Regions from separate parts of the Homo sapiens genome. Here all the other regions are linked to region 3. The links come from fine-mapping of genetic effects on gene expression. A gene starts in region 3. Each other region holds a variant in brackets. All regions are shown on one strand. Distances are from middle to middle.

Region 1 (9,694 bases), 24 kb after region 3:
TGCAGAAAAACAGATTTTTAAGGCAAAATCAGAAATTCATATTTTGGATGTGTTAATTTTGAGATACTCTGTTAGACCAAAGTGGCGGTGTCCTGAAATCCTGTTGTTTGGTAGACAATGACCGGTTTAGGGTTTTTCTTTCCTTTTCTTTTTTTGCAAGTAGACTTAAGAAAGCATAAAATGAATCTGTAGTCAGGAACCTCTCAGATACAAACGAGTATAGTATTTCAGATTAAGATTTTGGACAGGGAGAAAGATGTAATATACATGAATAACATTGAGAATAAGAATATATTCAGGCGAATAAATAATTACTGCTATTTACGGAGTGCTGTCCCTATGCCAGGTCCTTGCTAGGCATTTCACACGTGTTATTGCTCATTGTGATTATACTCATGCACAACTGTAATTAGCCCCATTTGAGAGATAAGGAGAATGAGGCTTAGAGGAGTAAAGTGGCATTCCCACTGTCATAAAGATGGTGGGTGGTGGAGTTTGGAATTCAGAGTTCCAAATCCAGTCATATTGGATCTAAAATTCAGTTACATTTGATGTTCAAGCCGTGGTTTCTTTCTGTCGGGTTAGTCTGCCTGTCAGCAAAAGGGGAAAACTCGTTCTGAGATAGATAAAGGGTGGCCGGGTGCAGTGGCTCATGCCTGTAATCCCAGCACTTTGGGAGGCCAAGGCAGGTGGATCACAAGGTCAGGAGTTTGAGACCATCCTGGCCAATATGGTGAAACCCCGTCTCTACTAAAAATACAAAAATTAGCCAGGGGTGGTGGCAGGCACCTGTAGTCCCAGCTACTGGCTGAGGCAGGAGAATTGCTTGAACCCTGGAGGCGGAGGTTGCAGTGAGCCGAGATTGCGCCACTGCACTCTAGCCTGAGCGACAGAGCGAGACTCCATCTTAAAAAAAAAAAAAAAAAAAAAAAAGATAAAGGGCCTTTAAAATAGGACATAGTAGTTTGTAGAATCTCCCTTTTAAAACATTTTAGAATGCTTCACTTTGGCTAAATTAAGAGGTAGGGCAGCTTCTCCAGAGAAGGAAAACTTATTAGGAGAGGCATTTATTAATCACCCACCCTCTTCCAGCAAGTGTGAGCCACACTGGGCATTGTTGAGGCCCTGGATCTTATTGAAGGTGAAAGAATTCAGCATGGCATGGGAAGTACCACGGGGAATCAGGTGGACAGGGATCAGCTGCTGAGGACAGCAGGGCAGCTGCAGCTGGAGAGGGAGAAGGGAGCTGGGAGGAGAGATGAAGGAGCTGCTGTGAGATAGGCTCCTGGGCTAAAACAGGCACAGTTGGGTGCGCTGGGCTCCATGTCTCCCTGCTGAGCCCCTGGGAGCTGCAGGAAGATAGATGAACCTTGGCTTCCAACAGGAGCGGCATGCCTGGAACTGTTGGTGGGATTAGAATGAGCTGGCCCTGCTTCTATGGCTCCATTGTGGCCTTTGGCAAGTCTTCACTTTTCTATCTAGAAAATGTGGCAGTTGGGACTCGATTGTCATGAAATGCCAGGAGAGCAAGAGAGAGTGTGTGTGCACAAGTGACAGGGAGAGAATGCAAGTGCAAGAGACAGCGTGAGTGGTTTTATGTGGTTTCTTGTTTTGTATTACCAGGAACGAGGAAGCTCTCTGATCTCAGGCTGGGTGGGGGCTTTGTCTGTGGAAAGGGGCTGTCGTCGCAGGCAGAGCAGATGACATCTCCACATCCCTTTAGTCCTTTGGTCTGTGTGTTCCATGTGTTCTTCAGTCTGACATGAGCAAAGCACAGCACACACAGGGCAACTTTGGGGAGCTCTGAGGGCACCATCTTTCCTTGGGACCCACTTTGCCGACTCCCAGTGGACCATCATCTTGCCCTGCAGCCAACCCCATGCAAAAGTGTTCCTTTTAACATTCCTTTTAGGGAGATCTTTATTTCTCCCAAAGAACCAATTTTCTTCCTGCCCTCCCATAACCATGAGAACAATAAGACTGAGCATACTTTCCCTTTTGGCATCAGTGGCCAGGAAGCTTGGAATTGAATCTCAATGTCATTATTGCCACCATGTATTTGTGGTCAGCATGGATATTCCCTTCTTCCCTGGGCCTCTGTTTCAATGCATATTTTATTGCATGTCATTTATGAGCTGCCTTAAAATGGTCAGGACTTCTCCTGTCATACCCGTAGGCCTTCCTTCCAAGATTTCTTTACTTGAAAAGGTTCCCTTTGTTCTTTTTTTTTTCTTAATTTTTGCCCTGGTGAGGGCAAGGGTTGTGGTACAGAAGCTTCACTGATAGATTCAGGAGTCTAGCCCCAAGCCCAGGCTCTGTCCCTGACTTTCTGGGTAACCTCAGGCAACTAACATGCTTTTTCTGGGTTTCAGTTTCTTTCTCTATAGAATGATAGGTTGTGATGAGGTCTACTCCAGATCCTTTCCATTCTGATTCTGAGAGTGTGTTAGTCCCTGTTGGTACCTGGGGTAAATGCCAGGGGATTAGGCATTTACCTAATCTTACATCCAGGATCCAAAGAATCAAGGCAGAAATCTGGAAAAAATGAGAATTTTTAGGGATGGAAGTCTCACCATTTTCCTCATCCTGTGATGCTTTAGAGTTGGAAGCTTGGGAGAAGGGGGAAGGGAGAGAAGCCGGACTGAGGCTTGACAGCTCTATCAGTCAGGAAGCCCAGGGAAGCATATGCTGTGGCCAAGGTTGCTGAAGGGCCTCCATCTGCCAGGAGCCACTAGCCAGGCAGCCACCAAGCTGGGGCTGGCACCACTGCCCCTCCGTTCCTCACATTTCTCCATGGGTGTCTGCAGAGGGGCAGCCGTGGAGCAGCTGGGATGGTGGAAGCATGGGAACCAGTGTTCCCCCTACTACTCCCTACCCAGACGGGAGGCCTGCCAGACATTGCCCTGGAAAGCCAGCCCAGGTCACTTGGCCTAGCAGAGTTTGCCAGTCATTTCAGAGTCACTCATGCCTGGGCCTGCTGATGTCCGCTGAGGTGATAAAGCAAGAATTATTTCTGAAGAAGGGAAAAAGAGAGATCTCCTTCGACAGGTAATAGTGATAGCAAGAAATGTTCAGTCCTCTAATTTCCCAAGAACTACCCCCATCCCTCCATTCATTACCTTGGTTGGATCCCAAAGAGACAGCAGGGCCAGGAAGGTGGCGCCTTCCTGAGTGAATGCATGAGACAGCTGAGACGAACAGAGGTCAAAGACCCAAGGTCACCAAGATGGACGATGTGATATGGCTCAGAGGAGCTGAGGGTCTCTCAGTGGTGGGCTTGCACAGCAGCTGGGCTGCTGGGTGGGACGCAGCAGTTGTTGGAAGAGGAAAGAGCAGTGCTCCTCATGGAAAGGGCTTCTCCTTTGCCTGCGAGGCTGATTCTTAGAGGAACAGGGAAAGTCACTAGTTAGGGAGAAGGCACATGAGGAATTTCTTTTTCTTTTTTTCTTTTTTTTTTTGAGATGGAGTCTCCACTCTGTCGCCCAGGCTGGAGTGCAATGTCGTGATCTCGGCTGACTACAACCTCTGCCTCCCAGGCTCAAGATATTCTCCTGTCTCAGCATCCCGAGTAACTGAGATTACAGGCACCCACCACCTCGTCCAGCTAATTTTTCTATTTTTAATAGAGACAGGTTTTTGCCATGTTGGCCAGGCTGGTCTTGAAATCCTGACCTCAGGTGATCCGCCCACCTCGGCCTCCCAAAGTGCTGGGATTACAGGTGTGAGCCACCGTGTCTGGCCAAGAATTTCTTTTTAAACGACTCTCTGTAGTATGCTTACCTCTTATGTCTGTGATGCCCTGCTTTTATGGAAGTATGACCAGCCCAAAATGCAGGTATATACCTGCTCATCTCCATTGTGGTATCTTAGAGTCTCATGGAAAAGTAGGTTTTTTCTTTTATGCAGCAGAATGATAAGTGTCCCAGGTCTACTGTATTATGAGACCTTCATGATGCAGTAGAAATGCAGGTGCCCATGACCTGGAAATCCAGGGTCCAGCCCTTGGTGACTCTTGTAACCTCTGAGGCTTCAGGTTTCCCATAGATCAGATGGACTAGTCTCTACCTGGCCTCCCTCTATGGGGAATTTGTGTGAGGATTCAACGAAGTTGTGAATATGCAAGAGCTTTAGGGGCAGCCTCAGCTACCAGTCTCCTCCAGGCTGACCCAAAGTCTAGGGAAGCATCCTGGGCCCAGCTACCTGAAGTCAGGTAGAGGGGGGGCACTGGCTCTTGCTCCCCTTCTGCTGCAACTTGCTGAGCCATTCTGGAAGAGTCTCTACCCCTTTCTGGACCATGCCTGTCTTTTTATTAATGCAACGGTTCATTTAAATACACACACACACACACACACACACACACACACACACACACACACAATGGAGTCAGGGGCATGGTGGCTCACACCTGTAATCCCAGCAACTCAGGAGGTGACGCTGGTGGATGGCTTGAGGCCAGGAGATTGAGACCACCAAGAGCAACATAGTGAGACCCCACCTTTAAAAAAAGTAAAAAATAGATTAGCCAGGTGAGGTGGCTACTGGAAAGGCTGAGGCAGAAGGATCGCATGAGCTCAGGAGTTTGAGGCTGCAGTGAGCTATGATTTTGTCACTGCACTCCAAGCCTAGGTGACAGAGTAAGACCCTGGCTCTAAAAAAAAATTAAATATATATCACATGTATTTTTAAAAATTTGTTTTTTATTGAGATATAATTTACATTCCATAAAATTTATCCTTTTAATAGCCAGATGCAGTGGCTCACACCTGTAATCCCAGCACTTTGGGAGCAGGGAGGCCAAGGTGGGTGGATTGCTTGAGGCCAGGGGTTCAAGACCAACCTGGCCAATATGGAGAAACCCCATCTCTACTAAAATATACAAAAATTAGCCAGGTGTGGTTGTGCGTGCCTGTAATCCCAGCTACTCGATAGGGTGAGTCATGAGAATCACTTGAACCCGGGAGGCGGAGGTTGCAGTGAGCTGAGATCGTGCCACTGCACTCTAGCCTGGGCGACACAGTGAGACTCTGTCTCAAAAAAAAAAAAATTAAGTTTTTAAAATGTACAATTCAGGGATTTTAGGATACTCACAAAATTATATAACCATCACCACTAGCTACTTCTAAAACGTTTTTTATCTTCCCAAAAAAGAAACTCCATTCCCATTACCAGTCATTCCCTGTTCCTTCTTCCCTTCCAGTGTGTTTTCTGTCTGTGTGCATTTGCCTGTGCTGGATATTTCATATAAATGGAATCATGCAATATGCGGCCTTTCGTATCTGGCTTCTTTCATTTAGCATAATGTTGTCAAGGTTCATCTGTGTTGTAGCATGGATCAGTAATACTTCATTCCTTTTATAGCTAAATATTCCATTGCATAGACGCATCACATTTTGTTTATCCATTCTTCTATTGGTGGACATTTGGGTTATTTCCACCTCTTAGCTATTAAGAATAGTGCTACTGTGAAGTACACTTCTTATACAAGTTTTTGTTTGAGCATCTATTTTCCATTCTTTGGGGTATATACCTAGCAGTGGAATTGCTGGTTCTTATGGCAATTCTATGTTTAACTTTTCGAGGAACCACCAAACTGTTTTCCATAGCAGCAGCGTCATTTTACATCCCCACCAGCAATACATGAGAGTTCCAACTTCTCCACATCCTTGACAACGCTTGTTATTGTCCATCTTTTTTATGCTAGCCATCCTAGTGAATGTGAAACAATATCTCATTGTGGAAAATAAGTATTCCATAGATTTTTAACCTGAAAAATCCTTTTTAAAAAGTAGTCTTACTTCACACCTTCCATATGTAAAACACATACGAGAGGAGCCTCTTCAGGTGAAATGGGGGAGGAGGCCCAAGCCACCCCTCCCAGTAGGTGCAGAGGCAAGTCCTCTTGGGTGGTTTGAAGACCTAGGCTTGATGCCCTTCAGCTCTGGAATCTGAGTCTAATCACTGGAGACACATCCTGTGTAGCAGCTGCCTCAGCCCTCAACCTATGCTGGTTGCCTGGGGAAGCTTCTCACAGCATTTGGCCAAGTTGTGGGTCTGCCTTGCCGCTGTGTTGGGGTTGCCACAACAGTGAGAAGAAGTCGGATGGCGCCTCATGTGTGGTCCCAGCTTTGAGGGTGGCTTGTGTGGGAAACAGGAAGCAAGCTGGAGAAATGCCAGCAAGTCCTGGAAGGAAGATCCTAGGTTTTGTTGACAAAGGAGGAGCAGAGGCACATAGTGGCTGATGAGGCCATAGCCAGTGCAGGGTTTACTGAACTCCTCAGCTGTGAATAGCCCTGGTAGTGCTAATCTTCTGAGATCTAGAGTGTGGCTGCTGGAACACTCCCAGGCCTGTCTTCTATTCCCACCTCTCTGCATTAGCATTCTAGGAGCACCAGGCACTCTGCTGTCTGATGGGTGGAATGTTCTGCGTTCTAGTGTTACCTTGGCAAAGAGAGGATCCCTCCCAAGTTCTGCTCTGTTGATTGCAATGCTCTGCTTTCCACAGCTGTCAGTGGTTTGAGTCATCAGACACAGATTGTTCTGTTCCCTCGGATTTTAGGATAGCTTTCTTCTTGTATCAATG[G/A]CTAATTCTTTGAAAGAAGATAAATTATAGTACATACAGGGACTTTTGCTTAGCTGGAATATTAGATTAACCCAAGCACCTGGTTTTTCCCCCATGACTGTTGATTGGGGAAAATGCTATCATGTCTCTTTGAAGAATGGAGCTTCCTAATTTTACATATGTGGAAACTGAGACCCGAAAGTCCTAGTAATGAAGGAGAAAGAAGCATCAATTAGAAGCCCATAATTTCATTGACAGCTCTAGAATTAGAGAATGTTAGATCCAGAGCACCTTAGAGACCATCTAATCTGACTCTTTGGTCTATTCAATGTGCTTGTTTAAACCATTGTATTACCAACAGTTGTGTGTTGATTGTGTTTGTTTTTATGAAGTTTCCCAGGGGATGGTGTTCCCTGAGTTTTAGTCTAAGGCATAGCATCCTAAGTGGTCAAGACAGTAAGTGATAGGAGAAGTCACTGGTGGAAAGGCTGTGGGTGGGACCTAAAGAAAGAGTGCAATGTATGCCTGAGGACAGGCAGGGAAGATGCTGCAGATGGGACAAACAGCCCATGTAGAGATGCAGATTTGGGAGTGACTAGCCGAGGTCTCCTGGATGTATCAGAGAGCCAGTTGGAAAGGTTGTAGATGAGAGGGCCTTAAGCACCCACATCAAGAGCTTTGCTCTGATTTTTACCTAATCTGGGACTTCCAAGGAATTTTGAACAGGGTCCAGGCCCTTTTCTCCATTGTTCCTGCCATGACCCTGGCCCAGGCCCTCCTAATTTCTCCCCTGGTTGGTAACCTCCTAACTGGTATCTGGTATCCCTCCCTCTCCACACAGGCTCCTTATCAGGAACTTTCTAAAATGCAAATATGATTGTGCCCCTTTCCTATAAAGCACTTGCATGGCTTCCTGTTGCCCACAGGACAAGATCCTGGCTTAAGTGGCTCTGTGTGGCCTGCCCCCCTCCTTCTGCAGCCTCACTCCCACTGTACTTCTGCCCTCAACAGGCTCCCTAGTTTCTGAGCAGCCAGCTGTCACTCACTGCCTGTGTCCAGACTTCTCCTTCCCTCCCATTTTCTGCTGCCACCTGGTGAACTCTTATTCATCCCTCAAGACCCAGTGCAAATTTCTTGTGTAGAGAAGCGTTCCTGGATCCTCCTGAAGACACTATTATGGCTTGAATGTGTTTCTGTTTTGAAGCTCACTTCATGTTACTTCCAAAATACTGGCTGCCCCCATGTTTTAGTGTTTATTGTGTGATAGGCACTGACCTAAGCCCCATACTCACATTATTTTATGTTATTCTCACAGTAACCATATGAGGTGCATTCATTAGAGCCCCAGTTATTACAGATATGGGCAGTGAGGCTCAGAGAAGTGGGTGACTTGCCCAAGGCATGCAGCTGAAGGGTGCCAGAGCTGGCATTTGAGCCCAGATCAGTTCATATTGACTTCTGCAGTCATTAGTCTCATGCTCCCTGGACCCCCATTGTCGGGGGGGTTAGGAAGTGTTGAGCATTTGAGGGAGCAGTCAAAGGAGTGGATGCAGCAGGGTTGCTATGGTGTGGACAAGATGGGGAAGTGGAGGGAAGTTCAGTGAGGGCAGGGGCTGGGTTTACTCTGGGGTTAAAGTGATGAGAGACTATCAGCCCAGCTTCCCACAGTTAAGGGTTTTCTTTCTACCTTCCTTTCCAAGTGGCAGCCTCTGGCCACCTGGGGAGAGGCCTGCGGGACTCCAGGCTAAGCAGGTGGCATGGTGACAAACACCATGGCAACCTGCCTCCTTGCTAGGGCCTAGAAGGGAGGGAGGACCTGAGAGAGCACAGGATGCACACTGAGTTTTCTGAGTAGGATCCTGAGAGGTGGCTCCCTTTGGGCCTGGGTGGCTTCTGCCCTCCCATGAGGGACCCTGCCTGCAAGGTCCCATCCCAGCAGGGGAAATGCGTCTTCCACCTTTGTCCCTAATGAATACCTGGCTCTGGGTGCCCAGGAGACTGTTAGCTATACGCAGGTACAAGTGCCACCCCCTTCCCTCCCCCAGGCCAGGGAGGAAGGAAGAGGGAACTCAAGAGGAGGCAGGTGTGGGGTAGCCAAGCAAGATAGTGGCAGGGACAGCTGGGACAAGGCCCTCATTGTAGCAAGGCCACACGCAGCTCCAAGACAAACCAGGCATTTTGCCTGCCTCCCAGGACTGGGCCTAGCACTCTGCCTGGACTTTCCTGGCTCCTTAGAACACTCACTCACACTGGCTTGGAAGAGCCCATCCTCAGATCTGAGTCCTGCCTCTGCTGGAAAGTCCTCCTGAAGGCTCAGCCTCCTTTTTGCATCCTCCCAAAAGCCAGAAGGGCAGGGATGATGGTGGGAAAGTTGTTGGTGAAGCCAGGCCGACCTGGGCCAGAAGCCAGAGCATGTCACACCTGCAGCTGTGTGACCTTGGGCCCAAATGCAGTAACAAAGCCGGCCTTGAAGGATTGCTGCTTCAAGTAATGGGCCAAGGCAGACGAGAGCACTCAGCATGGCCACCTTACCACTGAAGGATTCAGGCAATGGCAGGTGATCCTTGGAGCCCTTGCCCATGTGCCCCTCTGCACCCTAAGCTGTTCCTGGTCAAGATCCTCCTGTGCCCAGGAGGCAGTGAGCCATTTATGGCCATCCTCACAAGCATGGAGGAGCACTGATGTCCTCTTACCCCCAAATCGCCCCTCCTCCATGGTTCCTGCTCTAGGGGCCAGCCCTACAGTTCCAGGAGGCCCTGCCTGGGTGACTGGGGCATAATGAGTGGGAAGCATTGCCAAGCTGGGGCAAGAAGCTCAGGTGACAGGTGTGGTGTCGGCAGGTCCTGCAGCCCAGCACCCGACACCTCCAGGCAGACAATGCTGGCTGTGTCCAGACCCTCCAGGGGAACAGGCTGTGTTCTATGTCCCCGCCAGGAAACAGGCCATCTGAGTAGTGCCTTTGTCCACTCAGGAGGCAGCCCCGCCGCTGGCTGGGATGACCAGGCTCCGGGGAGGCCCTGACATGGGAAGGGGGTGGTCCCCGGGCCAGAGACTCTGGGGTTTGAGATCCAGCCCCTCAGCATCTGATGTTGACCTGGTTTCGATATTGGCTCTGCCACACACCTGGGATGTGAC
Region 2 (10,461 bases), 36 kb after region 3:
CCTGCCTCCAGGCGCACCTCTCCACCTGTGAGCGTGCGGGATGCCTACGGCACCTCTTCGCTCAGCAGCAGCAGCAATTCTGGCTCCTACAAGGGCAGTGACAGCAGTCCCACGCCAAGGTAATTGGCCCCTCCTCTCTGGGCCTGGCCCTGCTGGCTGGGAACAGGTTGTCCTGGGGTGGGAGAGGTAAGGGAGCAGGGTCGTGTTCTAACCACCCCTGACGCCAGCATAGCCGCTGGCCGTGTGACCTTGAGCAGATCATTTCTCCTTTCTGAGCCTCAGTTCCTGTCTGTAAGATGGATATGATAATATACAGCTGGACATAAAAAAATACAGTGGCCTAAACAAACTAGGGGTGATACTTGCAGAACAAGGAGCCAGGGGTCAGCAGCTCCCTGAAGTGTCAGGGACCCTGTGTCTTCTCCCGCTGCTCCACCATCCTTGGTGTACAGCTTTTGTCTTTGTCATCACAGGTGGCTTCTGTACCTCCAGGCATCAGGCCTGCCCTCCAGGAAGGAACAGGTGGAAAGGACCAAAGCCCTTCTCAGAGATTGTTTTTCTGAGAGGGACAGCTTGCCCCCAAATCCTGCCAGTTCTTGCTGGCCAGAACTGGGTCATGTGAATAACTCTAGCTGCAGGGCCAGTTAGTGTCTTCCCCACAACAGTACCACCCCAGACAAAATGGGGGTTCCGCTAGGAAGAAAGCAAGATGAGTATTGGGAAGCAGCCTGCAGTGTCTACCATCATGCACTTCTCAGGGGAACACTTTGAGAGTGGCAGAGGTGGAACTGGCTTGGAAGGCGAAATGTTACGAATGCAGCAGATGCCAAGTTGTAGTCTTGAGTGAGGTGAACTCGGACTCACAAAGCAGGATCATGTTGGAGAAGCAGGTGTAGGGGAGCTGTAGGTCCTTGAAGACCAGGAAGGAAGAGCTGTCATGGTAGGCCTTGTCCTGCTTCCCCAGCATTGAAATACAAGTGGGAGGTTGGGGCGTGTAGGGAACGAGCATAGGCTCTGGATTTGGTCTCTTCCTGTCTTGAGCCTCCATTTCCTTTCTTTAAAGTGGAGCTAATAACTCGGAAGCTTCGGTGACTTGATATCTACACACCGCCTGTGCATCCTAGTTGGCCAATAACTGATACCTCCTGTTGTTAGAGCTTTGATCTGACTTAAGGCCAGGAGATGCCCAGCCTGTGGCTCCCATGGCTGGAGCACCTCCTGGGAGGACTCAGTGGAGAGGATGTCATTTGTGTGAAGCGATGTCCAGAGCCACTGAAACAGCAGCTGTTAGATTTCTATCGTGACACACATGATGGGTAACACCCATGTGCAGGACTCATGCCCCAGCATCCTGGCTGTAACACCACCCCAGAGACTGGGGGACATAGGAGTAAAGCATTAATTTACATTTTGAAAACTATATAATTGGCAACTTTAATCTTTTCTATTAGTAACAGATTTTGTAACACACCTCGTAACTGCAGCCCATGGAGGTGATCCCAACCCCAGGGCTGAGAATTGCTCCCAGCAAAGGGTCTTCTTCCCCACAACAAGGGTTGCTGCCCCTGGGTGAGCAGTGGGGCCACAGTTAGGTCCCCTCTGCAAATAGCCAGGCTTTCCAAGGCAGGAACAGCTGAGAAACATGCGTCACAGCGTATTTTTTTTCTAATTTGTGTGTGTGTGTGTGTGTGTGTGTGTGTGTGTGTGTGTGTATACATATTTTTTTTTTTACAAAGAGCTAGTGACTAAAAATGTACACGTGTTAAATTTTATATCGGGGAAAATATTCATGAAAGCAAAATGAAAAGAATGTAAAATAGTTACTTCCTCTCTAATCCTCAATCCTTACTAGTTTAGCTAACCTTGGGTCCCCCACTCCTACCACCCCTTGCCAAGGGGTGACTCCTCCGCCCCTTGCCAAGCAGAGAGGAGACCTGCGTGACTTGGCTTGAGTTGACCTAGGGGCCATGACGTGAGTACATAGAAGAAAACCACTTCTCATTCCACTTCTATCACCACTTTCTCTTTGACAGTTTACGACTTACAAGTACTTTTTCCTCGGTAAACACCATACAGCTTCCATGGAACTTTTAAAATTGCCTCCAGCTCGGCTGCTTCAGCAAATGGGCCTCACCAGGGCCTGCCTTTTCCAGGCTCATAAAGGGACATTGCCCCTCCCTAGACCTGCCAGTCACTCTCCCCTCAAGGAGCAGAGTTGGATGGCAACAAGGCCTGAGTCTCTAGTCGCGAGATACATGCCCAGGTTTTAAGCCAAGATCCAAGGTTTCTGTTTGAGCAAAACAACCAGCAGCCAGGACACTGAGAATAGAGCTGGCTGGGCCATAGTCTGTTGTGGAATTGGGGCATTCTCCTTCCCCGTGAAAGCCTGGCCCTCCCTCCTCCACTGGCACCTGACTGCCCTCTGGGTGGAAATTCCTTCTCCTTTGCCCTGGTAGGGCACCATGTCAGTGCCGCCCTGTGCTGGGAGCAGTGCACTTCCAGCCTGCTGCCACCCCAGAGTACTGCAGTGGACAGGTCCCTGCCCAGAGCCGGCAGGTGTTCACGTGTGTGCTCCCATGTGCCCCCGGAGGTGAAAGTGTGAACATGTGCCTGGGCTGGTGCCCTAGTATGTGTGAGTACCTGCGAGGCACAAGTGTGTCTCCATGTATGTGGGCATGCAGGTGTGAATGGACTGGGAATTGACATCCCAGGAAGTGTGCGTGCATGTAGTGCTCACCCACGTGTACGCAGTGGGGGTGAGGAGTGAGAGTGCCAGGGCGTATATGGAGACAGCTGTGCCTGCGCGTGTCTGCCCTCCCTGTCCCCAGGCTGTGAGGGGTCTCAGCTCTAGAGAGGAGAGCTTCTGCCTCCACCTGGGAGATGTATCCTGCTGTGTGGGGGTGAGTCCTTGTCTGCCATGCAGACCCAGCATCTGCCACTTACACCTCAGTTTCCAGCCTTCAAACTCATTCTCCAGGTTGGAAGACGAGGTACCTGGGTTCTGGGGCACACTACCGGGATTGTCTGAGGGGCTCGGGGCAAGAGCTAACCTCTCTGAGGCCAGCGGCCCCTCTAAAAGATGAAGACAGTCCCTACTTCAGGGCTGCTATAAGGATTGATGGCGTTGGTCAAGTGCTTGGCCTGGTTCCAGGTTTACACATATGCTCTGGGATATATCTCCCCACCCAGCCCTAACTAGAGGAGCCCTGAAGCCCGCTTCCTGACATGATGGTCTTCACTTAGAGGAACTCTACTAAAACCCACCTTCCAGAAGGCTGGGGGTTCTCCTGCCTTGTGTGGGAGGCCTGGCTTGGAGCATCTGGTGGCCAGGGATGGTGAGGCTGGTGTCCCCTTGCTCCCCAGAGGTAAAGCACCTGTGCCTTGCCTGACCTCTTCCTCCCTCCCTGATGATGGGCGTCCCCTTGCAGGCGCTCCATGAAATACACGCTGTGCAGTGACAACCATGGCATCAAGCCCCCGACCCCGGAGCAGTACCTGACCCCCCTGCAGCAGAAGGAGGTGTGCATCCGGCACCTGAAAGCCCGGCTGAAGGACACACAGGACCGGCTCCAGGACCGGTGAGCGGGTGGCCACGAGCAGCCCTGGGGGTACCCCACCAGCTCCACACTCAGGGAAACCAGGGCTCTGGGGTGCCTCTTGGAGGGAGGAGTGGCTGGGGGTCTCCCAGCATCCGTCTGCTCTCTCCTTCCCAGCAAAGCCTCATTTGAGCCCACTTGCAGACCCTCATCCCCAGCAGCTACTCACCTTGACTGCTCCACGAGGCTGTTGGGGGCCAGGCGGGAGCAGTTTCCCATGAGGGCCTGTCCTGTGGGGCCTCCTGCCTGTGCTGTCCTTTCCCAGCTTCAGCCTGGCAGCTCCTTTGGCTGCTTCTTTTCCTCTGGCTCCCATCTTCCAGGAGTTGGAGCACAGGGCTTCTTTCTGACTTACTTGCCTCTTTTGGGGGAGAAACAACTCTTTATCCTTCCTCGCTTCCTCCTGAGTGAGTCACCAGAGGGCTTGTGGCCAACCTCGACTTCAGGCCCCAGAAGCCATCTACTTCCTGCTGTGGAGGATGATGATGAGAAGCCTTTTGCTGAGCTCCTCCCCAGCCCAGGTGTCTCCCAGGAG[C/T]CCCCGCAGGCCGTCTGAGCTCATTCTCAAGTGCTTAATCCCAACCCTCCCAGCTTCTACCCTCCAAGCCCAGTGGCTTCATCTTTGTGATCTACACTTCAGGGCGTCGATCTCCCATTGTCTTAACTATCCTTCTCGGGACTGTGTCTATGCAAACATGCAGCCTATTGTGAGCTGGCCAAGGTGCTGTGTGGGGCTGGAGCTCAGAGCAGGCACGATGATCGCTCCTTTTTTCTTTTCTTTCTTTTTTTTTTTTAATACAGCAGCTTTATTGCAATGTAACTTACATACCATATAATTCACCTATCAAAAGTGTACAATTAGATGATTGTTAGTTTAGTCACAGAATTTTGCAACCATTACCACTATCTAATTTCATAAATATTTCTATCACCTCAAAATAAACCCCATTCCCATTAGCAATCACCGCCAATTTCTAATTTCATCAATATTTCTATCACCTCAAAATAAACCCCATTCCCATTAGCAATCACCGCCAATTTCTAATTTCATCAATATTTCTATCACCTCAAAATAAACCCCATTCCCATTAGCAATCACCGCCAATTTCTAATTTCATCAATATTTCTATCACCTCAAAATAAACCCCATTCCCATTAGCAATCACCGCCAATTTCTAATTTCATCAATATTTCTATCACCTCAAAATAAACCCCATTCCCATTAGCAATCACCGCCAATTTCTAATTTCATCAATATTTCTATCACCTCAAAATAAACCCCATTCCCATTAGCAATCACCGCCAATTTCTAATTTCATCAATATTTCTATCACCTCAAAATAAACCCCATTCCCATTAGCAATCACCGCCAATTTCTAATTTCATCAATATTTCTATCACCTCAAAATAAACCCCATTCCCATTAGCAATCACCGCCAGTTTCTAATTTCATCAATATTTCTATCACCTCAAAATAAACCCCATTCCCATTAGCAATCACCGCCAGTTTCTAATTTCATCAATATTTCTATCACCTCAAAATAAACCCCATTCCCATTAGCAATCACCGCCAATTTCTAATTTCATCAATATTTCTATCACCTCAAAATAAACCCCATTCCCATTAGCAATCACCGCCAGTTTCTAATTTCATCAATATTTCTATCACCTCAAAATAAACCCCATTCCCATTAGCAATCACCGCCAATTTCTAATTTCATCAATATTTCTATCACCTCAAAATAAACCCCATTCCCATTAGCAATCACCGCCAATTTCTAATTTCATCAATATTTCTATCACCTCAAAATAAACCCCATTCCCATTAGCAATCACCGCCAATTTCTAATTTCATCAATATTTCTATCACCTCAAAATAAACCCCATTCCCATTAGCAATCACCGCCAGTTTCTCTCCAACCACCATAGTCCCTGGCAACCACTGATTTTTCTGTCTCTATGGATTTGTCTATTCTGGACATTTCATATAAATGGGATCACGCTGTATGCATGACCACATCGTTCTTGACCACAGCTCTGCCAAGCAGCCAATCCGGTTTGGATTTGTTGTGGTTTTAAACTACAGGCGGTTACGGGTAGCATTCAGCGAGCTTCATTGTCGGCAGAGGGAGGATTTCTATTTTTATTTTCCCTCATCTTCCCAATGATGCCCAGGATCTGCGTGGCCTTTTGCACTAATGCCTCAGGGAGCAGATGGCCCATCTCCCAGCTTCATTTCTAGGGCCAGCCCCATGGCTTAGAGCAGACCATCTGCCCTGTGTGGTTTGGGCAGGATGCCCTGGTGTAGGTGTGCTAACACCTTGACTCCCTGGTCACTGTCTGCCTGTTACTCCCACAGGAACCCATTGCAGGTCTTTACATGAAATACTGTCACTCTCCCCACACTCTCTCCATATGGAGTTTCATGCCTGTGCTTCCTGCAGTGGCCCACCTTCTGTTCCTCAAAGACACCATGGCTTTTGCACCTCTGTGCTTTCGTATCTGTGTCCCCACTACTTGAGATGCCCTGCCTTCTATCTTGCTCCCTGGGCAGACTTACCCTTCAAGACGCACTTCAGATGTGATGCCCACTGAGGCGTGGACAGGGCTCGAAGCCATGGCTCCCTGGGGTTTGGCTGGGCCCCAAGGAGAGAGAGGCAGAGACTGGCTGAGCAGATCATGCCCAGTTCCTTCTTTCAAACTCACTCTTTCTCCCAGGGTGAGGTGTGAGTGAGGAGCAGGGTGAGAGGCCAAAAGGGTTACCTAGAGTGGGCCCCCCACCTGGAGGCAGGAAGGGTGAAGGCCAAGTATCTCCTGCCCCTCAGTACCTGTTGCCTTGTCTGTTATTGGCACTCTAAGCAGCTCCAGCTGTGTCCTGATGGGTGGATGGGCCCCTTCTAGGTGACACCATTGCTGACCTTTATGGCCACTGCATCCCCTCAGCCCCCAGTCCCTCCAGCGTATTGTGGAATGAGATTCCTGGGCCCATTTCCTGAAGGAAAATTCTGATCTGGCTTTGAAAAGTATATGGTGCTTGATCTGGGACGGTCATTCTGCTGGGCTGATGAACCCCAGAGTGACAGGCACGGCATTTGTAGATTTTACGGATGGGAATGTAGGGTTTAGGCTGAGGGGGCTCATGTGGGCTGCCACTAGGAAGTGAGCGAAAATGCCCAGGACAGGGTTTGACGTCTCCTGGATGATTTTCCTTCTTCCTCACTGGTGTTAATCAGTCGCCATTCTGTCTCACTCTGGTTTTACCTCTAGACCTGATGGCATATTTTTCTAACTTACCTCCCTCCCCTTGCACCCCTGGATTCATCTGTGACTCGGGAATTTGAAAAGCCTGAGCATTTCTGGACAAGAGTCTGCCGACTATCTTGTTCACCTGGTGCTTGCCCCCGTCGCTCAGGAGTAACTCTATGCCTTTCTCGTTGATCTTTTCAGCTTTTCCTCTTTAAGATACAAGATACAAGGAGATACAAAGATACAAAGAAGCTTCTAGCATGGATAGATGAGAGCCACCCTGTTCTTATCACTCTCCCGTTCCACCCACCACTTCTCATCGCTCTGCATGAGGGATGATGTAAAATCATCAGCCTCCCCCAACATTGAAAGCTGTCATTTCTCTCCCCTGGGGTCTCTGGCCAAATATTCCTCCACTGAAACTTTCTGCAACCTGCTTTAGTAGGTAGTAGGAGGCTACATCACTTTCTATAGAGCAGAGATTTCCTGCCTAGTTTTTGTTGTTTCACATTAAGATTTTATTAGGTTTTTATAGCAGTAGCTATAAAACTTATGAGCATCTTTGTTGTCTAGTCTCTTCTCTAGATGATGGATTTGAATGTTGAGAGTTGTCGGCATTCTGGGGGTGGTGGGGTGGGGGAGGGAATGCGAGTGGTGTCTCCTCCCAACCTTTCTTCTCTCTCCAGGCAGAGGCTTCTCCTGTCTTCACCCCTCAGCCCCTCTCCCCAGCCACTCTCACTCCCCACTATAATAAGAAGGCATTGAGTTTGTCCTTCTGTTTTGGGTTCTGAGCCACAGCAGCACAGGGCCCTTCATCCTTGGCAACAGTGTCCTCTCCCTGCCTCTCCTTGGCGGTGACAGACCAGGCAGGCAGGCAGTGAGCGTGTGTGTGTCTCCTCGGCTCGCAGGGACACAGAGATTGATGACCTGAAGACGCAGCTGTCACGCATGCAGGAGGACTGGATTGAGGAGGAGTGCCACCGCGTGGAGGCCCAGCTGGCCCTGAAGGAGGCCCGAAAGGAGATCAAGCAGCTCAAGCAGGTCATCGACACTGTCAAGAACAACCTGATTGACAAGGACAAGGGGCTGCAGAAGTACTTCGTGGACATCAACATCCAGAACAAGAAGCTGGAGACGCTGCTGCACAGCATGGAGGTGGCCCAGAATGGCATGGCCAAGGAGGATGGCACTGGGGAGTCAGCCGGTGGGTCCCCTGCCCGCTCCCTCACCCGCAGCTCCACCTACACCAAGCTGAGTGACCCGGCTGTCTGTGGTGACCGCCAGCCGGGTGATCCCTCCAGCGGCTCTGCTGAGGATGGGGCAGACAGTGGCTTTGCAGCAGCCGATGACACACTGAGCCGGACGGACGCGCTGGAAGCCAGCAGCCTGCTGTCGTCGGGGGTGGACTGTGGCACCGAGGAGACCTCGCTGCACAGCTCCTTCGGCCTGGGCCCCCGCTTCCCTGCCAGCAACACCTATGAGAAGCTGCTGTGTGGCATGGAGGCTGGTGTGCAGGCCAGCTGCATGCAGGAGCGTGCCATCCAGACAGACTTCGTGCAGTACCAGCCTGACCTTGACACCATCCTGGAGAAAGTGACCCAGGCCCAGGTCTGTGGGACAGACCCTGAGTCAGGGGACAGGTGCCCAGAGCTGGATGCCCACCCTTCAGGGCCCAGAGACCCCAACTCAGCAGTGGTGGTGACAGTGGGTGATGAGCTAGAGGCCCCAGAGCCCATCACCCGTGGACCCACCCCACAGCGGCCTGGTGCCAACCCCAACCCTGGCCAGTCGGTGAGCGTGGTGTGCCCCATGGAAGAGGAGGAGGAGGCTGCCGTGGCTGAGAAGGAGCCCAAGAGCTACTGGAGCCGCCACTACATCGTGGATCTGCTGGCTGTGGTGGTGCCGGCCGTGCCCACGGTGGCCTGGCTTTGCCGCTCCCAGCGGCGCCAGGGCCAGCCCATCTACAACATCAGCTCCCTGCTGCGGGGCTGCTGCACTGTGGCCTTGCACTCCATCCGCAGGATCAGCTGCCGCTCGCTGAGCCAGCCGAGTCCCAGCCCAGCGGGCGGCGGCTCCCAGCTCTGAGGGGGCCCATTCTGGCAGCGGCGCCTGCGGCCTGACCACTGATTGTAGGGATGCCGTTCCCCCCTCCCTTCTCCCATGGGCATCATCTTATTTATTTAGTTTTGGGTGTGGAACTGTTTCTTTTTTTCAAGATGTTAAAACAGTCCCGTGGAAGGAGCAGGGGTTGGAGAAAGGCATCCCAAAGCTTCGATGGAGAGCAGGGAAGGGGGACCCAAGGCAGGAGGTACACCAGCTGGACAAATTGCAGGGAGGGGAGGGAGCGAGGGCCAACCCGGCCCCTCTGTCCCCTTGGCTCTTCAGACAGGGCCAGCCCTGCTCAGGAAGTCTCTGGCTGTCTTCATGTGGGGAAGCCGGGCTTGAGTTGCCCATAGGCCCCTGCCCTGCACCATCCTGTCCAGTGCCCTGCGCACTCCATGCCGTCTCTTCCAAGCCACCTTGCCCGCAGCCCAGGCTCCTGGGCCAGTGCTCTCTCCTCAAATGGAGGCAGCCATGGCCTGAAGTGCAGATCACTGACCCAGGGCTCAGAGCAGAGGCCAGAACCACTGGGCCGGCCGGCATTCCAGCCTCCCCAGACTGCTGCCCACCTTGGGACTCAGGAGCTCAGTCAAGGCCACAGGCTGGAGGAGAGACGGGGCTGGGCGCAAGGTGGCGGAGGGCAGTGTGGGTTCTGTGTCTGTCTGTTCATCCCAGGCTTTCCCGTCATCCCTTTCCTCTTGGCACTTCTGGGTGTGTCAGTCATTATTCCTGTGAGGTAGCTAAGCCCGGCAAGCTCAGTGCTGGGGTAGGAGGGCCTGCCTGAGTCCCAGCTCCCAGCTGGAGAATCCACCAGCACAAGAAGAGGAGGCAGGGGCAGAAACCCAAGGGGGCTCCCCCAGCCTTCCAAGGTGAGGCCATCTCATCTGCAGGCTGGGAGGCAGGGCTGGACTCAGGAACCCACAGCTTACTGAAAAAGCCAGAGGCCATGACTGCCCCCAGAAACTTGCCCCGAGTTTCTCTGGGGCCCTCGGGCCCAACTTCTGCTTTGCACTATGTTCACTTTGGGGTTGGTTCTCAGCCATCCAAGGGTCTCCAGTGAGGTGGCTGCTTGCTGTCTGAGATGAGGGTTCCTAAACCTTAAACCTCTCTGCCTCTGGAGGAGGGTGGGGTATTCTGGCAGGATGAATCGCAGGATGGCGCGTACTGAAGCCACGATGTTCATCCAGGCCAAAGCAGGGTGTCCTGGGATAGGTTTCCTAGGCAGGGGCGTGGCAGAGCAGGTAGGCGCCCTGCAGCCTCCCTGCTCCCAGCCCAAGGCCAGTCGGCCTGGGAAGTTCACTGCCCCAACTCTTTTCCCGGGACCATACTGAGTCCCCCAGCCACGCTGCTGACATTACCATTATTATTTTACCAAGTAAACTCACTCCTTTTCCCCCACAGGGGTTACACCCATCTGGTTGTCCCACCCACTCTTCAGAGGCTAGGCCCCACCTCTGGGGGTTGGAGGGACCCTGTGTCTTACTCGCCCCTCTGGCCTAAGGGCCACTCTGGTTATCTGCCAAGG
Region 3 (10,461 bases):
GACCTAGTTAGTTCATAGTGTTGTTTAGTTCTTCTACATCCTTGTTTATTTTGTCTACTAGTTCTATCAATTACTGAGAAAAAGTGTTTGTGTCTCCAGCTATAATTGTGGATCTGTTTATTTCTCTTTTCCATTCTGTCAGTTTTTGCTTTATATATTTTGAAGTTCTTTTATTAGGTTATATACATTTATAATTATTACATCTTCTTGGTGAAATGACCCTTTTATTATTTTATAATAATTCTCTTTATTCCTGGTAATATTTTTTGCTCTGTAGTCTACTTTTTCTAATATTAATATAGTTATTCCAGCTTTCCTTTGATAAGTATTTGTATGGTATATCTTTTTTTATCTTTTACTTTTAGCCTACCTATATCATTCATTATAGTTAAAGTGAATTTCTTATAGACTGCATCAAATAAAGTCATTTTTTTATCCATTCGGATAACCTCTGTTTTAATTGAAGTGTTTAGATCACTTATATTTAATGTAATTATTGACATTTTTGGATTTCAGATTTTATTTATTTAGGATTTTTGGATTTTATTTTATTTTTTTTACTGTTTGTTCCCTTTATTTTTTATTCCTCTGTTTTCCCCTTTCTTGTCTTCTTTTGGAATATTTGGAATTCCATTTTTATTTCTTCTTCTTCTTTTTTTTTTTTTTTGACAGAGTCTCACTCTGTTGCCCAGGCTGGAGTACAGAGGTGCAGTCTTAGCTCACTGCAACCTCTCCCTCCTGGATTCAAGCAATTCCCATGCCTCAGCCTCCTGAGTAGCTGAGATTACAGGTATACAACCACCCCACTCAGCTAATTTTTGTATTTTTAGTACAGACCAAGTTTTATATTTTTAATAGAGACCTGTTGGACAGGCTCATCTTGAACTCCTGGCCTCAAGTGATCCACCCACCTCTACCTCCCAAAGTGCCAGGATTACAGGCATGAGCCAGTGCACCCGGCCTATGGTGTTTTTTTTTTTTTTTTTTTACTATATTTTTTGTCATAGATTTTAAAAATAGCTATTCTAGGGGTTACAAAATACATACTTAACTTTTCATGCTCTACTTAGAATTGATATTTTACCACTTCAAGAGGAGTGTAAAAATCTTACACCATATAGGTCCCTTTATATTGTAAAGGAATATACATACTCCTCCTTTATATTGTACTAGTCTTATCTACACACATTGAACCCCCATCAACAATTGTTGCTTTCCACTGTCAAACATGTTTTAAAAGATCAAGAGAAGAATAGCCTATTACATTTACTCAAATATTTACCATTTTTGTTCTCCTTCCTTCTTGATGTTCCAAATTTCTTTCTAATGTAATGTCCCTTTTGTCTGAAGAACTTAATTCAGTAGTTCTTTTAGAGCAAGTGTGCTGGCAATGGATTATCTTCATTTTCCTTAATTGGAGAATGTGTTTATTTCACTTTCATTTCTGAAGGATATTTTTGCTGGGTACAAAATCCTGGTTGACAACTCTTTTCTTTAAGCAATTAAAAAAAATTGTTCTGTTTTCTTCTGCCCTCCATGGTTTCTGATAAGAAATCAACAGTTATTTAAATTATTATTCCTGTATTTTTTTTTTTTTTTTGACACAGGATCTTGCTCTGTCACCCAGGCTACAGTGCAGTGGTACAGTCAGTCATAGCTCACTGCAACCTCGACCTCCCGGGCTCCAGCAATCCTCCCACCTCAGTCTCCCGAGTAGCTGGGACTACAGGCAAACGCCACTACACACAGCTGATTTTTGTATTTTTTATAGAGGTGGGGTCTCGCCGTGTTGCCCAAGCTGGTCTCAAACTCCTGGGCTCAAGCAATCTGCCTCTTGGCCTCCCAAAGTGCAGGGATTACAAGTGTGAGCCACTGCATCCAGCCTATTCCTGTATTATTAATGCATCATTTTTCTCTGACTGCTTTAAAGATCTTGTTTTGTTTTTAATTTTCAGCAGTAACTGAAAACTATTATTATTATCATTATCATCATTTGATTTATTCTCTCTGGGGTTCACCAGAATGCTGGAGTTTGGAGCTTTATTTACTCTGTTCCACTTTGCTGCCTACTTTCCACAGTTGAACTTGCATCTGGGACCAGGAGGTAGGAGGACAGTGACAAAAAAACAACAACAGGGGCTCACCCTCCCTCAGGACTACAGCTACTTTTATTGAAGAAGTTTCTCCTCCCTCAGAGTTTTAGGCACCTGTGGGTTCCTGCTGTCACAGACACCACTGCAGGATGGCCTAGGGCCTGGGTCATGAGACAATGGAGAAAAGATTTGAAAGGAAAAGAACAATGATATCTCCCACATACTCTGCGCATCAGAAGTCCCTTTTCCTGATCTTCAAGTCAAAACTAGGGAGATTCTTTGGGAGCTTTCTCTTTATTGAGCCCCAATTCCAGATTTTGATCTGCCTTGAGACCAGGACAGGAGTTATAGGAAGAAATAAAGATGATAAATTCACCACTAGTTCAGTGGTAGGGTATATCAAATTCTGGCTTCTTCCCCAGTGTGCCTGCTAGTATTTTGTCTTCAGAATCCTCAAATAGCTGCTACATGCATTTTGTTCAGGTTTTATTGCTGCATTCTGTGGGAGAGTATGCTTAGCCAGAATTGGAATACAATTGTTTTTGAAACTAAAAAAATTTTTAATGTATTTTCAACTAGTCCAAAACAAAACAAAATTACTAATTTATTAGGAATAATTTTGTTTTATACTTATAATCCTCATTTGTTGCAATTTACATTATAACTAAACACCAGTTCTCTTCTCAATCATCTGCTTCCTGATGATAAAGAGAATACTTTACTAGCTAACACCATTCCAGATGGGAGTAATGTGAGTGAAGTCACTGTCTTGCTTTGGGGAAGTTCCTTGTGGAGATTTCTGGGAAATGTAGTCTTCTAAGTACCAAGCAAAAAAAAAAAAAAACCCAAAAAAACCCCCACACAAAACCCCACACACATACACACATGAGGATGGGACAGCCAGGCATGGTGGCTCAAGCCTGTAATCCCAGCACTTTGGGAGGCTGAGGATTGCTTAAGCCCAGGAGTTGGAGACCAGCCTGGGCGACATAGTAAAGCCCCATCTCTATTAATAAACAAAACAGCATGGGAACAGACAAAAAAATATTTTAATGACAATCTCAGAAATGTTCTCCTTCTAAACATGTAATAATTACATGGCTTCCTTTGGTTTCACTTTTAAGTGTAAAAATGTCACTTATATAATTTCAGTGAGCATTAGAGCAGATAAAACATTTTATCAATTAACTTGCTAATATAGCATTAGGTGTTTTGGACAGAAGACCTCAACATTTCACATGGCTTTTTCAACTAGTTTCCTATTCCTGCTAAATTGCTCTGCCATGTTTTTCTAGAAAACATAATATAATAATGGCTATCTGATAGGATATGGTTTAACGGAATACAGGAGAAAATAGAATCAATGTCCTCTCCAAAATTTATTAGCATTTGTTGCAAAAAAAGTAATGGATTTATTGCAGCTCAGAGATACAGGAAAAGATTTGACTGTGAAAAGCAACAGTAAACTTAAAATAATTATTTTTTCATGTACATTATCAATATTAACTGTTTCTCACCAGGCCAGTACTGCAGAGTCATGATGTAAATCAGTGAAGTCACTTTACAAATTCTTCTCTTGGAAAAGTCAGCTTGGGGCAGAGAGTAGAGGGTACCAAGTTCAGCACCGGCGAGAGTAAACAGACTTAAGGACTTAAGAGCCTTAAGAGACTTAAGACAAAAGGACTTCCAGGATGGCATCTGGCCTAGTGTTCCCATAGAAGACTGGGGCCTGGCACAATGTGTGCTTGCTTTCTCATTCACTTAGTCAATATTTATTGAGCTCCTACTATGTGTTAGGCACTGCTCTGGGCACTGGAAATACAGCAAGGGAAAAAAACAAAGTTCCTTCCCTCATGAAGTGTACATTCTAGTGGGAGTGATAAATGACACATAGTAAATATACACTATGTCAGCTGGTAATTAAGTGTAGCAAAACTAGGGGCAAAGGAGGTGGAGAGGAGGGAGTTAGTATTTTATGTAGAATGGTTAAGGAAGCCCTCTCTGAGACAGTAACATTTGAGCAGAGACCTGGAGGAAAGGAAGGATTGAACCATGTGGCTCTCTGGTGTGTTCTAGGCAAAGGGGACAGCAAATGCAAAGGCCCAGCAGTGAGGCCTCAGCAAGAAGGACAGCTTGATGGGAGAAAAGTGAGTGATGGGGAGAGCCACGCAAGATGAAGTCAGAGAGCTGGAGTAAGATGAGGGCATGTGGCGGAGAGCGATACAGAAAACCACTGGATGGTTTAGAGCAGAGTAATGACAGATCAGACAGGCCTGGTTCAGAAAGAAGGAGCCCATTCCCACTCCACCTACTTCCCACACATGAAGCAGATAAGAAACCAAGCCCAGAAAGTGAGTTAACTTATCTAAAGTTGTATGGCTAGAAATGGAAGGGCTAGGCAGAAAATCCAGTTTTTTGGACTTTTTGGTCTTCTTGTTTTCCCTGTGACAGATGGAAGACAGAGGGAAAAGAGCCACAATTAACATTTTAAGTTGTGATTGTTTATCTCTCCGAGATCTTTCCAATGATTCACCTTTTTACTACTTAAGAGGAAAACATTTCCATTTTCAGACACTTAAGATTCCTGCTATCATTGTTAGTAGCCCAAGTGCTTGTCATTCACATTAAATACCCCTGGTACTCAGACTTGGTTTGGGCAATGAAAAATGTTCCTAAAGGCTTTTAGATAAAAATTACTATTTCACTAGAGCCAACTATGTGCCAGGGAGTGAGACTGGTATCATCACCCCATGTTAGAGAAGAAAAAGCTGAGGCCCAGAGAGGTGAAGGGACTTGCACAGGGTCACACAGCCGACCAAGACGCTTTCCACCACGCCCAATCGATCGCCCAGCTCAAAATACCGGCTGGTGTGTAGGTGGGAGAGGCCGCCGCTCCCCGTGTGCTCGTTGTCTCTGTTCCCAGGCCCTCTAGAGCAAGATACTAACTATCTCTTTAAGAAGGAAAGTAAAGACGGGCCGCTTACGCAGCTGCCGGCGAGCCGCCGACTGGCTGGTCCCCTCCATCCACCTCACCCTCCCCGCCCCTCCCTCCCGGCAGCCCCAGCCCCGGCGAGCACCCAGCTAGCCGCCTCCTGCAGGGGCTCGGGAGAGCAATTCGGCGGCCCCTGCAGGGCAGCTGAAGCCATGGAAGCCTCCGCAGGTGATGACAAGGACCCCGGGGATCTCCGGGCCCACCGCCCAGCTGCACCCGCCGCAGTCCAGAGTGCCGAGTGCCAGGGGGTGGGGTGGGGGCCGCGGGCCGCGAGGAGGAGGGGACGGAGCACCCGGCAGGCAGCCTGCCCTCCAAGCCTTCTGGCTGCAGCGGCCCAGCTGTCAGCGGCCGGGGGCTCAGCTGCCTGGGTGTTCCCCGCCCGCGCTCACCCGCCCCGGTCTATCTCTTTTTCCTAACCCCGCAGGTCGCTGATCAGGGCCAGGCGGCTGCAGCAGCGACTGCAGAGGCGCTGCGCCAAGCCGGGCCGGAGTGGTGCGAGCCGGCGGGGCTGCGGAGGGCCAGTGGACTCAGGTGAGGAGGCCGCGGCGGAGCGGGGAGCTGGCCCTGCGCTGCACCGCGGCAGGTGGGGGCCGCTTGCAACCGCTCGCTGCGGTAGAATCCCTTGGAGGGCACCAGCCTAAGAGGGGTTAATCGTGACTCATTCTTACCCTCCCTTCATTCCCCTACATCCCTTTAAGCGCTTCCCTCCCTCCCCCTCCCTGAAATGTAAGAATTAGAGGGTGCTGATTGCAGCAGAGAAGATGCCCAAAGTGGGTGATTAGGAGGCTTTTAGGGAACCCACCCCCCAATTTTATTTGTCTTCCCCTTCTGGCATTTGGCAAACATTTAAGCTTCTCTTTTCCTTCTTGGAGGAGGAGCAGGGGTACCTGGGGGTGGGAGAAGGATGAGACCCCACCCCCACCCCAAGGTCAAGTGCCAATGACTGCTTCCATCCCATCTTTCCCTCTGAGAAGCATCAGGGCCCTGCAGTAGATCTGGGGAAAAAATGCCCATAAGTCCTAGAGTGGACGATCTGAGCCTCCGTCTCCCCGGAGCTTCCCTGGGATGTGAAGCCTTCCACTCCCCAGCCGGGATCTGGGCTGTTTGCAACACCTACTAGCCTGGGGAGCCCCATATTCCCTTCCCCAACCCTGCAGACTGAAAGAGAGGCCGGTCACATGCTGCCCGTTTCCTCTGCCTTCTCTGCCCATCTGGTGGTGTCGGGATGGGCTGGAGGAGCTTCTTAGAAAAAGGTGATCTCTGCAGGCAGAGTCGTGTAAGGAAAGTGCCAGAGATTGGGGTTCTAGGCCCTTAACTTGCTAGTTGGCCACAAGTAGCCATTTTAAAATTCTCTAGGCGTGGGTGTCTGTCTGCTCATCTGTTAGATGCAGGAATTGGATTAAATGATGTGTATAATTTTAGTATATCACTCAAGCAGCTTTTACATGTCAGGGGGACCCCTCTGCTAAGGCAATTTAAATTTAGTTTCATGAAATAATTGGGGTTTCCTCAGTTGATCTCTTTCAACTCTGACTTCTTAAGTGAAACATTGACCTTGTGGGCCTCAAGGAGCTGGAGGTGCCAGACAGTCCTATGTTGACATCCCTGAGCTGCCAAGTGACTTCCCTTCCCCCAGCCTCAGTTTCTCCATCTGTAAATCTAGGGGTACAGCCCGCAGAGGGCTGATGTGAAAATTAAATGAGATGTATGTGGAAGCACCTAAAATAGTGCCTGTGCCTGGCACATAGTAGGTTCTCAGGAACTCAGGACTTGGGAGATAGGCTGGGGGAAGAGAGGAAGAGGTGACTGCTTTTAGTCCTGTTCTCCTCCCCATCCCCTGCCTGTCTCTTCCACACCCCTGCAGATGGTGTCCCTGCCAGGGGTAATGAATGCTGAAGTGTATTGGGTCACCAGGCTGAGGGCCTAGGCAGGCAGCAACATTTCCACTGCAAAGGTTGTGACATCATTCTAGCAAATGATGGTCCCAAGGAGGACTGTAGCCCAGCATTGGGTTTGGAAAATCCTGGCATCCAAGGGCGGAGTCTCTGAGGGAACAGAAGCAGCAGATTCTTGTGTGCTGGCAGCAGGGCAGGGATCAGGTCTTCCGGATCTCACATGAATCCCACTGTGGCTCTCTTGCCCTCCCTGGAGTGTCTCCCTAGAGTCACCCTGAGGCCAGGCAGTCAAGTTTTTGGTGCTTGTATTTTCGATTCTTTATCTTCCTTCCTGCTGTCATTTTCAGCCTAGCACTCAAGCCTTTCTCGCTCCTCTTTATTCCAGATACCTCCTGCCTTTTGACAGCATGATAAAGGAGGTTCTCCATAGGGTTGGGTGGGGAATTTTGCTGCTGCACCATTTGGGCCAAAAGAAGTTGTCATGTCCCCCCACCCCCACCCTAAATTCCTATTTGGCAGAGGCCCTATCATTTTCCTTTCTCTATCTCCAGCCTCTGGCCCATGAGTAGGCCCAAAGTAGGTGCTCCGTAAGTGTTGAATGAAACAAACTTGAGGAAATTATGTCCCTAAGCCAACTAGGTTAGGGAGAAACTGTAGGAATGTGTTGATTATGTAGGTGAAAGCCCTTTTTAGTGTAGGACATCGTCCAGGTTGTTGGTTGTCATTATTATTGCTATTACAGCTACTGTTATTATTGCTATTGTTGGTGATTAACAGATGCTTCGCCTACTCCTCTAGGGCTCCTGACTAGACCAAAAGGGGCCAGATGTGCCTGGGAGGGTGGTGATGTTGGCAAAAAGGGATCCAGATGGTGCCAGCTGGTGTGAGATGACTGTGAAGGGAGGAGGATTGGGAAGGGAATGATTCTAGCCATTTTCTGTGTTTGAGGGAGGAGAGCAGGTAATTAGAATCAAGTGGGACAACATGGATATGCAGTAGAAAGTCAGGAGACCCAGGTCCCATGTCCCATTGAACCACTGCCTTATTATGTGACCTTGGGCCAGTCAGGCCTCCCCTCAAGGCCTCTGTGTGCCCATCTATATAATGATGGGACTGGACTAAGTGATTTCTAAGACCCCTTCTGCTTCTGACATTCTGTCGAGTGGATTTTGTTAAATAAAAATCAGACAACTATGATTACCCTCAACGTCATTTATGAAGTCCCAGACCATTAACTGTCTCAGGTAATCCTTAAAGAAAATTATGACCATTTCAAAGATGGGGAGACTGAGGCTTGGAGAGACTAAGTGACTTGCTGAGGGTTGCGCGGCTAGAACTGCTATCCGACACCAGGTCTGTCTGCATCGTCCCCTTCCAAAGGTTTCGCTGCCTCTTCATGCATACCTTGCTGATGCTGTGAGCTGTGTGTGCACTTGCAGGTGGGAACAGGGGTTTGGAGAAGAAGAAGCTGTGAACAATTTACGGTGAGAGATCAGGCATTTCTCCCAGGTGATTGGTGCAGGGTACTTCCTGGTTGAAAACTGTGTGAACCAGGAATGGAGAGTTTTCCTTTCACCGTGAGCCCTGCTTTGCTGATGTTTGGTGGATGCCCCTTTACCGAGGATAATGGTTAGGCCTGAATGACAGTCAGGACAGACACACTTTTTTAGTCTTCTTATGTGTTGTGCTCTGTTTTACACAGGTTCAATAATTTACTGCTCAGATCATCCCATTATGTAGGCACTATATATAAATTTACCCATTTTTATAAGTGAGAAAGCCAGGGCAGAGAGGCGAAGGGTCTTACCCAGAGTCGTACAACCAGTGTATCATAGAACCTAGAAAATGTTTAGCTGGAAGTGCACTGGACTGGGTGTCCAAAGGGTTGCTTTTAGTCTGAGCCCTCTCAATAACTGAATAACCTTGGGTCAGCCAGTTTCCCTCCAAGAGTTCCCATCCCTCAAATGATCTGCATGCATCTACTGGCTCCGAAAGGCCTACATGCACCCTTGTTCCAGTATTGGAGGTGGAGGGGATTCCTTAACTTGCTAAACATTGACCAGCATTTGTCCTTATTTATTAGCTAGGCCCTGGGCTAAGTGCATAGCATGCAGGAAAGAGTAAATTGTGAGTCCTAGTTTCAAGAAGCTCATATCTAACAGAGGGAGACAGACACCTAAACGTGTAGATATGAGAAAACATCTGGAAGCTATAAGACATACTGATATGTGTGTGATGGGGTGGGGGGACAGAGAGAGGGGAATGATCTTTCCTACTGAGTGGGTCAGGAAGGCTTTAGAGAGATGATGCCATTGTCATCTCTATTTTTGGCATTGAGCTTGTGAATAATAATTTAATAATAATAGTAAAGGGTTCTACTCGATTTAGAATGTTTCCAAACAGCCCTAAAGACTTGTTGGCTCCTGTCCTCATCAATCTAGAAGGTGGACATGGAGTCTAGGGGACTATCCAAGCTCACGCTGTAACACAATTTTGATGGAACTATCTGTTTGTCCCAGGTAGACCAGAACCTTTCCTGTCCTTAAAGCCTTCTAGAAGCAGGATTTTGAAATTCCTCTGACAAAGACTGTCTTGTGCCTATAATCATCTGATAGGCTTGGGGAATTCTTCTTCATGTCTATTCTAGGCATCCCACCTGTCTGGAGGAACGCCTAACACCTGAGAGGTGAAGTCATTTGCCTAAGATTACTCAGCAGGGCTTGGTTCATAACTCTGGCCTAACGGGGATTGCATTTCTAAGCCACATGGGGTCTTTCTACATCTAGGCCACCAGAAGCCCCAGGTGCCAGTTCTCCATTTGATGGGCAGCTGGTGCTGTGGGAAGTCTCGATGCAGGTGATGTGAAGCTCAAGCCAAGGGCCATGGAGAGGCTGAGGCCTGTGCACCCCAGGCTGCTTTGCATTAATGGACAGATATTTATGACGTGTTTGTCGCATACTCAGCACTGTCCTCTGAATTGAGGGGCTGAGCCAACCAAAAGGGAGTGGCTGGAAAGCAGCCTGGCACAGCAGGAAGAGCCAGCACCGAGGAGTCAGTAGACTTGGGTCCTCACCCCAGCTCTGCCGTTGACCCACTGGGTGGCCTTAGGTCAGACCCTTTGCTTTTCCACACCTGCAAAATGGGAGTCAGAGGTGATGATATCTAAGAGCCCTTCTAGCTCTGAGTGGCTAACAATTCAGAAACTCTTTCTTCTTCTTCTTCTTTTTGTTTTTTGGAGGCAGAGTCTTACTCTGTCACCTAGGCTGGAGTTCAGTGGCATGATCTTGGCTCACTGCAACCTCTGCCTCCCGGGTTCAAATGATTCTCCTTCCTCAGCCTCCTGAGTAGCTGGGACTATAGGCATGCGCCACCATGCCCAGAAAATTTTTGTATTTTTAGTAGAGAGGGGGTTTCACCATGTTAGCCAGGCTGGTCTCGAACTCCTGACCTCAGGCAATCCATCTGCCTTGGCCTCCCAAAG

The links. PIP is the estimated chance that this variant, and not a neighbour inherited with it, causes the effect. A credible set is the group of variants that fine-mapping cannot tell apart.
Region 1: its variant is the best candidate, but not a certain one, in a credible set for the expression of SNPH in skeletal muscle (GTEx, PIP 0.59).
Region 2: its variant is the best candidate, but not a certain one, in a credible set for the expression of SNPH in whole blood (GTEx, PIP 0.77).

The regions. Positions count from the first base shown.
Region 1 is chr20:1,285,181-1,294,874 of GRCh38, forward strand. All of the region lies in intron 2 of SNPH (syntaphilin), which reads left to right. Among named protein-coding and RNA genes, the nearest start is that of SNPH, 24 kb to the left of the region's middle. The variant G/A (reference allele first, on the strand shown) is at 6,581.
Region 2 is chr20:1,297,134-1,307,594 of GRCh38, forward strand. It overlaps SNPH (syntaphilin), which reads left to right. Exons shown (of 7, transcript NM_001318234.2): 5 at 12-119; 6 at 3,429-3,578; 7 at 7,745-10,461. The coding sequence ends at 8,921. Among named protein-coding and RNA genes, the nearest start is that of SDCBP2-AS1, 23 kb to the right of the region's middle. The variant C/T (reference allele first, on the strand shown) is at 4,129.
Region 3 is chr20:1,261,145-1,271,605 of GRCh38, forward strand. It overlaps SNPH (syntaphilin), which reads left to right and starts at 5,150. Exons shown (of 7, transcript NM_001318234.2): 1 at 5,150-5,253; 2 at 5,510-5,616. RefSeq lists an enhancer at 4,836-4,985 and silencers at 5,386-5,465, 5,566-5,645.